2 linked regions of the Homo sapiens genome follow. The protein of the gene in region 1 purifies or fractionates together with the protein of each later gene. This does not show direct contact. Each region holds a gene or a part of one and is shown in the gene's direction. Other genes may lie near its edges.

Region 1 (4,742 bases):
CATGAAAGCAGATATTCAGTATGGCTGACAGAAGTGATATAGGCAAAACATACTCCCCAGGGGCAGCTGGTTTTCTATGGAATTAACCTCTATTAAATATTTCTATTTCTAGGTCTGTGGTCAGGGATCATCATCTGTACAGTCTTTCAAGCTGTGTGTTTTCTAGGCTTTATTATTCAGCTAAATTGGAAAAAAGCCTGTCAGCAGGTAACTATGTTCATTCTGTCCCGGTAAAGGTTCCTCTCCTAGAAAAACAGGATCTGATCTGGCTCTCCCTTTTTTCTTTTGGAAAGTTCTTTTCTCATTTTCTTTATTCTTATCTCATGAATACTATTGTTCTTGTTGTTTTAACTAGACAGTTCAGATGTGAAGGGCCAGATGATCCTGGCTTTATCTATTCCCAGAAAAACAGGGGACTCCTTTCTTCCTTGTCTCCCATGCCAGGCTGTCACCCTTGTGCAGGAAAATCCAATTTCAGGACAAGAATTAGAACTGGAGAGAAATGTGGGATGCATCAAAGTCATCCTGATGTTGTTTTTATGGTCTCCAAATGTTTTGTTAAGATACTTGTGTGCATCCTTCCCTTCAACTTTCTAGGGTCAGTGTGAGGTCTAGAAATAGGTGGTAGAAAAATGAGATGAGTCGAGGTACAGTGGCTTATGCCTGTAGTCCCAGCTATTCAGGAGGCTGAGGCAGGAGGATCGCTTGAGCCCTAGAGTTCGAGGCTGCAGTCATCTGTGATCACTGCACTCCAGCCTGAGTGATGGAGCGAGACCCTGTCTCTACAAATAAAAATGTTTTAAAAAGAAAGAGATAAAGTAAAAAGGGAGAGTTCTAAATGATCTTGGTCCCTCTCTTGTCCCTGTCTCCCTCACCCTGTACTGTTCCCATCCCACCTTCCCTTTCATGGACCCCATTTCAGCCTTTTCTGTTTTCTTTTTCTTAAGAGACAGGCTCTCACTCTGTCACCCAGGCTGGACTATAGTGGCAGGATCACATCTCGCTGGAGTCTCAACCTCCTGGGCTCAAGTGATCCTCCTGTCTCAGCCTCCCAGGTAGTTGGGAATACAGACATGCGCCACCATGCCTGGCTGTTTTTTTTGTTGTTGTTGTTATTTTTTTGTTTTTAATTTTTTAATTGAGATGGGATCTTGCTGTGTTGCGCAGGCTGGCCTTGAATTCCTGGGCTCAAGCAATCCTCTCTCCTCAGCCCCCCAAAGTGCTGGGATTACAGGTGTGAGCACTGAGCCTGGCCCCATTTCAATCTTTATGAAAGATGACCTGTGAATGAGAGGAACTTCAGCTATACATGCCAATTAAGGAAAATGGCTTGGCTCTTCCTAAACTAGGTGGTCAAGTAAAATACCATATTAACACTATTGTGAAGCCTGATGGACTGAGTTTCATTTTCCAGGCTCAGGTACACGCCAATTTGAAAGTAAACAACGTGCCTCGGAGTGGGAATTCTGCTCTCCCTCAGGATCCGCTTCACCCAGGTAAGATATGACTCCCTCAGCCCTTGGACAGGCCTGTCTAGGTAGGACTGGAGGGGCTGTTAGTGAGACACAGCTAGATTTGCTGCTATGAGCTCTCATTTAAATAGGGCAATAATGTTTCAGAAACACATGATAAAGCCAAGTAACACACAATTCAAGGTAAACTGAGTTCATTCCACACATTAGTAAACCGCTATAGATGACTGAAAGGTCCCCAGTTCCTCCCCTAATTTCTGCAAGCACTTTGCAGGCATTTCTAACACTTGGAAATACTGTGCTTCTACCATAGCTTAGAAACTGACATTTGTTTGTTTTAATGGGGTCCCTGCTGTTCATCAGGCAGACACTTGTGGGCTTTAAACAGGTCGTTGCTTGGACCTTTGCTTCTGATTCACATTGTGCAAATGTGGTTATGGTTTTCTTCAGTCAGTTGAGTAATCCCCCCGATTCCTGGCCCCTTAGGCAGTTAGCCACCCACTCTCAGTAACCCTTGCTCCTTTATAATTTAAACACTTTGACTTCATAGAATGGCTGATACTTAGTCAGTGGTCAGTTGTGTTGTTTCTGCCAATTTTCATTCATGTTGTCTAGGCTCCTGTGCTGTGTGTCTGGTTATCTTTGATTTTAATTTATTTTTAAATTAATTTTTTAAAATTAAAGAAAAACTTTTTTTTTTTTAAATAGAAAGAGGGTCTTGCCCTGTTGCCCATGATGGTGTGCAGTGTAGCTCACTGCACCCTTTACATCTTGGGCTCAAGCGATCCTCCTGCCTTGGCCTCCCAAAGCAGTGGGATTACAGGCGTGAGCCACCACACCTGGCCTGGTTATCTTTGATTATGTTCCAGACTTTATATTTGAAAATTGTTCATAGAAGTAACTTGAGCCTGAAAGAATGTTGTCTATTTATCTTCAGAGAGGATTTTCTTTTCCTTCTGTTGGACACTGAGGGTGACCAGCAGTCTAGGGCAATCTTGGAAATGGAGCTTTCTGGAGCACCCAGCCAAACTGAAGGTGTGCTGCAGCCAGTGTGAGGCTTGGTTTACTTCTTCTGGTTCATGCTTTTTTTTTTTTTTTTTTTTTAAAAGCAGTCTCACCCTATTGCCCAGGCTGGAGTGCAATGGTGCGATCTCAGCTCACTGCAACCTCCGCCTCCCGGGTTCAAGCGATTCTCCTGCCTCAGCTTCCCAAGTAGCTGGGATTATAGGCGCCCACCACCATACCTGGCTAATTTTTGTATTTTTAGTGGATATGGAGTTTCACCACGTTGGTCAGGCTGGTCTCGAACTCCTGACCACAAGTGATCCACCCTCCTCGGCCCCCCAAAGTGCTGGGATTACAGGCGTGAGCCACCACACCTGGACTGGTTCATCCTTAAGTCTTGGATGCAGCCCTTTGGGGTTCTAACCACAAGTACAGAGAGGTTTGCCAGGGCCTGATTCTTGGTAGGTACCCAAGTCGCCAAAGCCCTGGTCAGCGTCTCAGTCATGTGATCTGGATGTAGGTCTCTCTGACCTGCATCCTCTCATCTCTCTGATCTGAATGAACTCTCTGATGTGAAGCAGCCTCAGAGGCTGGGCAGCCCCTCTGGGTTTCCTTCGTCCCTGGATCTTGCCCTGGTGACTCTTCATTACATTGTTTGCATTCTGATGCCTTCAAGATGATATTTAATTTGTTTTATTGAGGTTCTATAATGATCTTCAGGGAAGGGTTGGTGGATGTTTTCTACCATCTTGCCAATTTCCCTGATTTGTGAAATCCGCATAACAATAGCACTTATCCCTGTTGTTGTTTTTGAGTCTCACTCTGTCGCCCAGGCTGGAGTGCAGTGGCTCGTTTTCACTGCAACCTCTATCTCCCAGGTTTAAGTGATTCTCCTGCCTCAGCCTCCTGAGTAGCTGGGATTACAGGTGTGTGCGGTGGTGTACCACCACACCCTGCTAATATTTGTATTTTTAGCAGAGACGGGATTTCACCATGTTGGCCAGACTTTTCTTGAACTCCTGACCTCAAGTGATCCGCCTGGCTCGGCCTCCCAAAGTACTGGGATTACAGGCGTGAGCCACCACACCCGGCCTAACAATGGCACTTACTTTTATACTACCGCTGTTGGGGTTGAGAAGCACCCAGAACTGCCTGACCAGGGAAAGCATTTTGTTAAGTGTGAGCTGGTATGATTCTGTTCAAAATGATTTTCTTTTTCTCCCTCCCTCCCTCCCTCCCTTTTTCTCTCTTTCTCTCTTTCTCTGTCACCCAGGCTGGAGTGCAGTGGTGCGATCAAGGTTCACTGCAGCCTTGACCTCCTGGGCTCAAGCAACCTGCCTGTCTCAGCCTTCCAAAGTGCTGGGATTAGAGGCATGAGCCACTGCACCCGGCCCAAAATGATTTTCTTTCAGAACTCTGAGGATATTGCTACATTCCTAACATTCATCCACTTATGCTCATTAGGAAGTGGGATGGCCAAGCTTATTCTCGTGCCATTATGTAATATGCCTTCATTTTTCTCTTCGGAAGCTTTTAGGACATTTTCTTATTATTATTCCTTTTTTTTTTTTTTTGAGATAGGGTCTTGTTCTGTCACCCAGGCTGGAGTGCAGTGGTGCAATTATAGCTCACTGCAGTCTCAAACTCCTAGGCTCAAACAGTCCTCCCGTTTTAGCCTCCTGAGTAGCTGGGATTACAGGTGCGTGCCACTATGCTCAGCTAACTCTTTAATATTTTTGTAGAGACCAGGTCTTGCTTTGCAGCCCAGGTTGGTCTTGAACTTCTGGATTCAAGCAATCCTCCTGCTTTAGCCTCTCAAAGTGTTGGGATTACAGGTGTGAACCACCACGCCTGGCCTATTACTCTTACTGTTCTGAAGTGTCTTGAGACTAAGTCTAGGTGTGAATCATTATCTGCTTGAAACTGTTGGGGTGAAGGAGAAGCTATCCCCTTGCCCTCCGATGGTTCACTGAAAAATCAACTTATAATAAGGCCGATGAATAAGAGAAAAGGCATACAAATGTATTTAACCATGCAAAAGGGAAGAATCACAGTCATTACCCAACATCCCAGTGAGGCCCAACACTCATATAACCAACTTTCAGAGGGGAGAGAGGAGATAGGGCATTTGGTGCTTCTGTTGAGGGATAGTAAATGAGTACTAGGGAAAATGATTGAATATTTTGCAGAATGAATGGATTGGGGGCAGGGTGGACAGACTGGTTCCCTTTGGAAGTTGAATGAACCTGAGAGACTGGCATTATT
Region 2 (4,237 bases), on another chromosome or scaffold:
TAAACTAGTCTTCACAAGCTTTTACCACTCCAACTGAGATGTATACGTTAAGTTAGACTAATGTTTCAAAAACGGATACTTAAAAGCAACGTACCATAAAAATCTTCAGAAATTGTTACAAAGAAGAGTGAAAGAAAACAAGGTGTTTTACCATATGCATTTTTAAATTTAGCGTAGTGGATACTTTGTTTTAAAAATACATAATTTGTAGAATTACTGCCCAGTTTGTGTTTGAAACATAAATCCTGGGGTGGACGGCATTAAATTGAAAAAAAACGTGGGCATACAGTATATTTTAATTTTTCATACTGAATCGTACATTTGCACTGTGCCTTATTTCTACCGTGTTCTTCCTACTGTTGGACATATAAAAAGATTTTCCTTGGAACTGTGACTTGATTAGATGCTGCAGTATGCTGGATCCGGGTCGGTGGACCGCAGAGCGCTCGAGATGCGGAGAAGCAAAGCTGGCCGCTAGTGGGCGCTGTGGCTCCGTGGAAGTCACGGACGAGCGTCAGCACCGGCGCTCGACCGGGAAAGTAGCGAGGAGTTCCTGCCAGCTCTGCTCTGGGGTCTTGCAGACGCCGAGTGAGAAGCACATGCCTTGACTTTTCCATCTCACACCCTCTAAATCTCTGGTCACTTTGGGAAGCGCGCGTGTCTCCTAGAGGCTAGTGAGACGGTCCCCGCGTCGTGCCTGTGCCGGCGACACGCGGGGAAAGCTCCAGGGGCGCCACCTTCCCGGGGGGCCAGGAGGGAAGGGAGACGCCCGCAGAGAAGGCGGGAGGCGACGATGCTCAGGCCCTGATTAGAGCTGCAAATTCCGGCGCCGCGTCGCAGGAATCGTCTTGCAATTCCCGGCCCCACTGACTGAAACTGAGCCGTAGGCGATTGGTACCAAAATCAAGTGAGAAGCCCTCGCCGAGAGGCGTCGGGAGAAGCGCGCAGAAGCCGGGAGCTCTAAGGGTGCGCGCGGAGTGCAAGTCTTGCACGCGGGGCAGCGCCGCATCTGCGGAGAAGGGACGCCGAGCGGAGCCTGCTGCCTTCCGCACTGCTCGAGGGAAAGCCGCGCCCTCTGATTCCGCCGAGGGGGAAGGCGCCCCCGGGCGCGGAGACAGGTGGCCCGCTACTCGGCCGTCGCTGTTTCCACGTCTGCACCGCGCCCAGAAGGCCTCTCGCCGCCCCGGGGGCGCCCTGTGCACGCGCTGAGCGCTTCTCCTGCCCGGCTTCTGCTCCGCTCCCGCCGCCCGCGGGAGCCAGGGGCGGGGCTCACCTGTCAGCCCGAGCCCCGCCTCGCGGCACCCAATGTCGGGAGGGGATGGCGGACGGACGGACCGGCCGTCCAACCAGCGCGCGGCCGCGGAGCCGCGGGCCAATGGGCTTCGCGCGGCGGGGCGGGGCCCCGCGTTTATAGCGCTCTGACAGCGCGGCGGCCGCGCTGACTCTCCTCGGCGGGGACCGCGGCGCCGGCCGGAGCGAGGAGCTGCGCACGCAGCGGGTCCCGGCGCCCTCCCCGCACACAAAGGCCCGCGCGCGTCCGGAGCCCGCGGCGGGGACCGAGCTCCCTCTTTCCTGCCCTGGGGGCCGGGAGCCGCGCGGACTGAGAAGGCTCCTGCGCGCCCGGAGGCGCCCTACTCCGCTCCGTGCTCCGGGACATGGAACCGCGCCGACGCGGCGCCCGCGCGCTCGGGCCGCTGCCCGCTGCACTGGATCTATAGTCACAGGCGGCCCCGCTCGGGGCGCAGCGCCCGCCGCCCGCGCCGGTCGTCTCCGCTCCGGGTCTTTGTGTCCCAGCCCGCACCCGCCCCGCGCCCACCCGCCAGCCGCGGCCGGCCCGGCACCCTGGAGCCGCACGGGAGTCGGCCGTCCGAGCTGCGTCCGGCGCGGCGCCCCGGAACCCCGAGTCCGCCGCGCCGCCGCGCCCCGCGCGTGCGCTCCCGCCCCGCGCCCTGAGGGCCCCGGAGAGCGAGCGCACCTGGCCCGGCGACCGCTGGAGCTGCGCAGCGCGCCTCGGAGCTGCCTGCGGGCGCACGCCGTCTTCCCCGCCAGTCTGCCCCGGAGGATTGGGGGTCCCAGCCTGCGTCCCGTCAGTCCCTTCTTGGCCCGGAGTGCGCGGAGCTGGGAGTGGCTTCGCCATGGCTGTGAGAAGGGACTCCGTGTGGAAGTACTGCTGGGGTGTTTTGATGGTTTTATGCAGAACTGCGATTTCCAAATCGATAGTTTTAGAGCCTATCTATTGGAATTCCTCGAACTCCAAGTAAGTGGCGTCCGCGATCCCCCTATGTCCCCGCCCCGGGGTCCGCCGCGCCGTCCGGGCGGGAGGAGGGGTCAGTCCGCGGGGCCTCGGAGCCTGTTTCTGGAACCTCGGTTCCCCGTCCCCCACCCCCAACCCCCGCCCCATTTCACTAGGTGGAGACTCCTCGCTCGGCTTTCCAACCCGAGCCCCGCTGGAACGGACGGTCTCTCCGCCTTTCCTCCCCCGAACGCTCCCAGGCGCTAAAAGCTACTATCGGCTCGGGTGTCAAGTCCGGGAAGGTGTCCGATGGCGATACCTGACCCTCTCCTGTTTTCGAGGACGAAGGACATGGCCACAATCTAGGCTGGCCGGCACGCGGGGACTGGTGGGCTCTGGAGAGAGGCGGAGATGCTGCATTCGCGGGGAGCGCGGGCGGCGTGGTCCGGGGCCCGCGGGCGGGCGACCGGGGTGGCAGGACGCTGGCAGCGAAGCGCGTTCTGGAGAGGGGAGCCTGGAGTCGCTACGCTGCCCGCAGAGCCCTGGAGCCGGGGCGCCTTGGCACCGCGCCGCCAGCCCGAGGGTGCGCGGGGAGCTCGCCTGCTTCGCAGGAGAACTCGGGCGTCGAGCCCTTTCCTCCGCGCCGGGGAGACGGGCCTTAGGCTTCTCCCTGAGGGCCCGCCGCACCTCGGCCTCCCGCTTCGTTCATAAGCCGGTAGCCCCGGAGTATGCGGTCTCGATGGCCGACCTGATTGTAATGCACTTCCTATAAAAGCTTAGGGCCCTGCCCAGTCGACACTGCTCCTGAAGCCTTCTCCCTCGGGACCCTGGTAGGAATGGGATCCTTAGGATCAGATTTGCTCTTACCGGACTCTACAGCCGGGAGCGAGCCAGGCCTTGTGGAGAGTAACTTTCAGTTTGGGCCACCAGAGTGCATTCAGAATTTAGAAAATCCCATCCATCCCTAAATCTGTGTGGTCATAACTCGTAGTCATCTGGGTATTCAGTACTGTGTATCCCCTTATTTCGAATCACAGCCAAAACATATTTTACAGAATCTTGGAATTGTAGTCTCGGGAAACTTGGAGAAGAAGTATGCAGACATTAGCTGGTTTCTGGAGAAAACGTTTGAGATCAGAAGCAAAATCAATGGCCTAATTGAAGTTGAGCAAGTTGGGCCTGGTTTTAGGAGAAAAGAAATGGGGGATTGATTTAGAAATCACGTCTTAAAGGAGTGTGTCCATTCTCTTAAAAGTGTCAAATTTCAAATTCACTAACATGTTAACCAAGAATCCCTTCATGAAAAGGGCGAAAACGTCGGTTACAAATCGGTTTAAACAAATGTTTGTATGATGCTAGAAGGCACTTTCAACACCGCTCATACGGAGAAGTTACTTAGCTCTGCCTCCTTCCATGTAGTCTGCTCTTGCATGGATTATATTTTTAATGTAAATTGTTGTATTTGCTGATGAAGTACTGGCGGCGGCATCTTTGCATCGATGCCGGCTCGGGAGGCGCCAGGTGGTGCCGGAAGGAGCCGGGCTAGGACCTCGCGCAGCAGCGGGTCCCGGAGTCCGGGAGAGGCGGGCGGGCGGGCGAGGCGGTCGCGGGGAGCCCGCGGCGCCGCTGCCCGCCCGGTGCCTCCAGAGGTCACTCTTCCATGCGGAATCGCGCAGCGCCAGGCCTCGCCCCTCCCCCAGGCCGCCTGCTCCAGCCACTCTGCACTTTCACTGACCGGTTCTCTTTGAGGCTGTTTTTTTTTTTCTTATGAGGATTTAATATTTCTGTTTAAATCTAGTTGAAAGCAATTCCGTTAGCCTCTTCAGCGTTTAGTTCGGTGTGTGTATCTTTATCTTTGCGCTATATTAACTATTAGTTTGTGTGTATCCGGTAGGAGAATTAGAAATACCTAGTTGGGAGAAAAAGAAAAGTAGAACAATAGTTATTTCAACCTAAGGTTTAGACGTTAATAACTTCTTTTTGTAATGTGTCGAGATGGGGGGT

Evidence for each region. Proteins that work in one complex are often made in the same cells at the same time.
Region 2: the proteins of SLC47A1 (region 1) and EFNB2 purify together in Homo sapiens (affinity purification with mass spectrometry; one large-scale study listed by BioGRID and IntAct). This does not show direct contact.

What each region holds. Positions count from the first base shown.
Region 1 is NC_000017.11:19,571,366-19,576,107, forward strand, and holds part of SLC47A1 (multidrug and toxin extrusion protein 1), read left to right. Parts: exon of another isoform or gene 1-112; coding exon 113-207; intron 208-1,414; coding exon 1,415-1,496; intron 1,497-4,742.
Region 2 is NC_000013.11:106,532,863-106,537,099, reverse strand, and holds the start of EFNB2 (ephrin-B2 isoform 1 precursor), read left to right. Parts: upstream 1-1,437; 5' UTR 1,438-2,135; coding exon 2,136-2,257; intron 2,258-4,237. UniProt on the Homo sapiens protein: Cell surface transmembrane ligand for Eph receptors, a family of receptor tyrosine kinases which are crucial for migration, repulsion and adhesion during neuronal, vascular and epithelial development.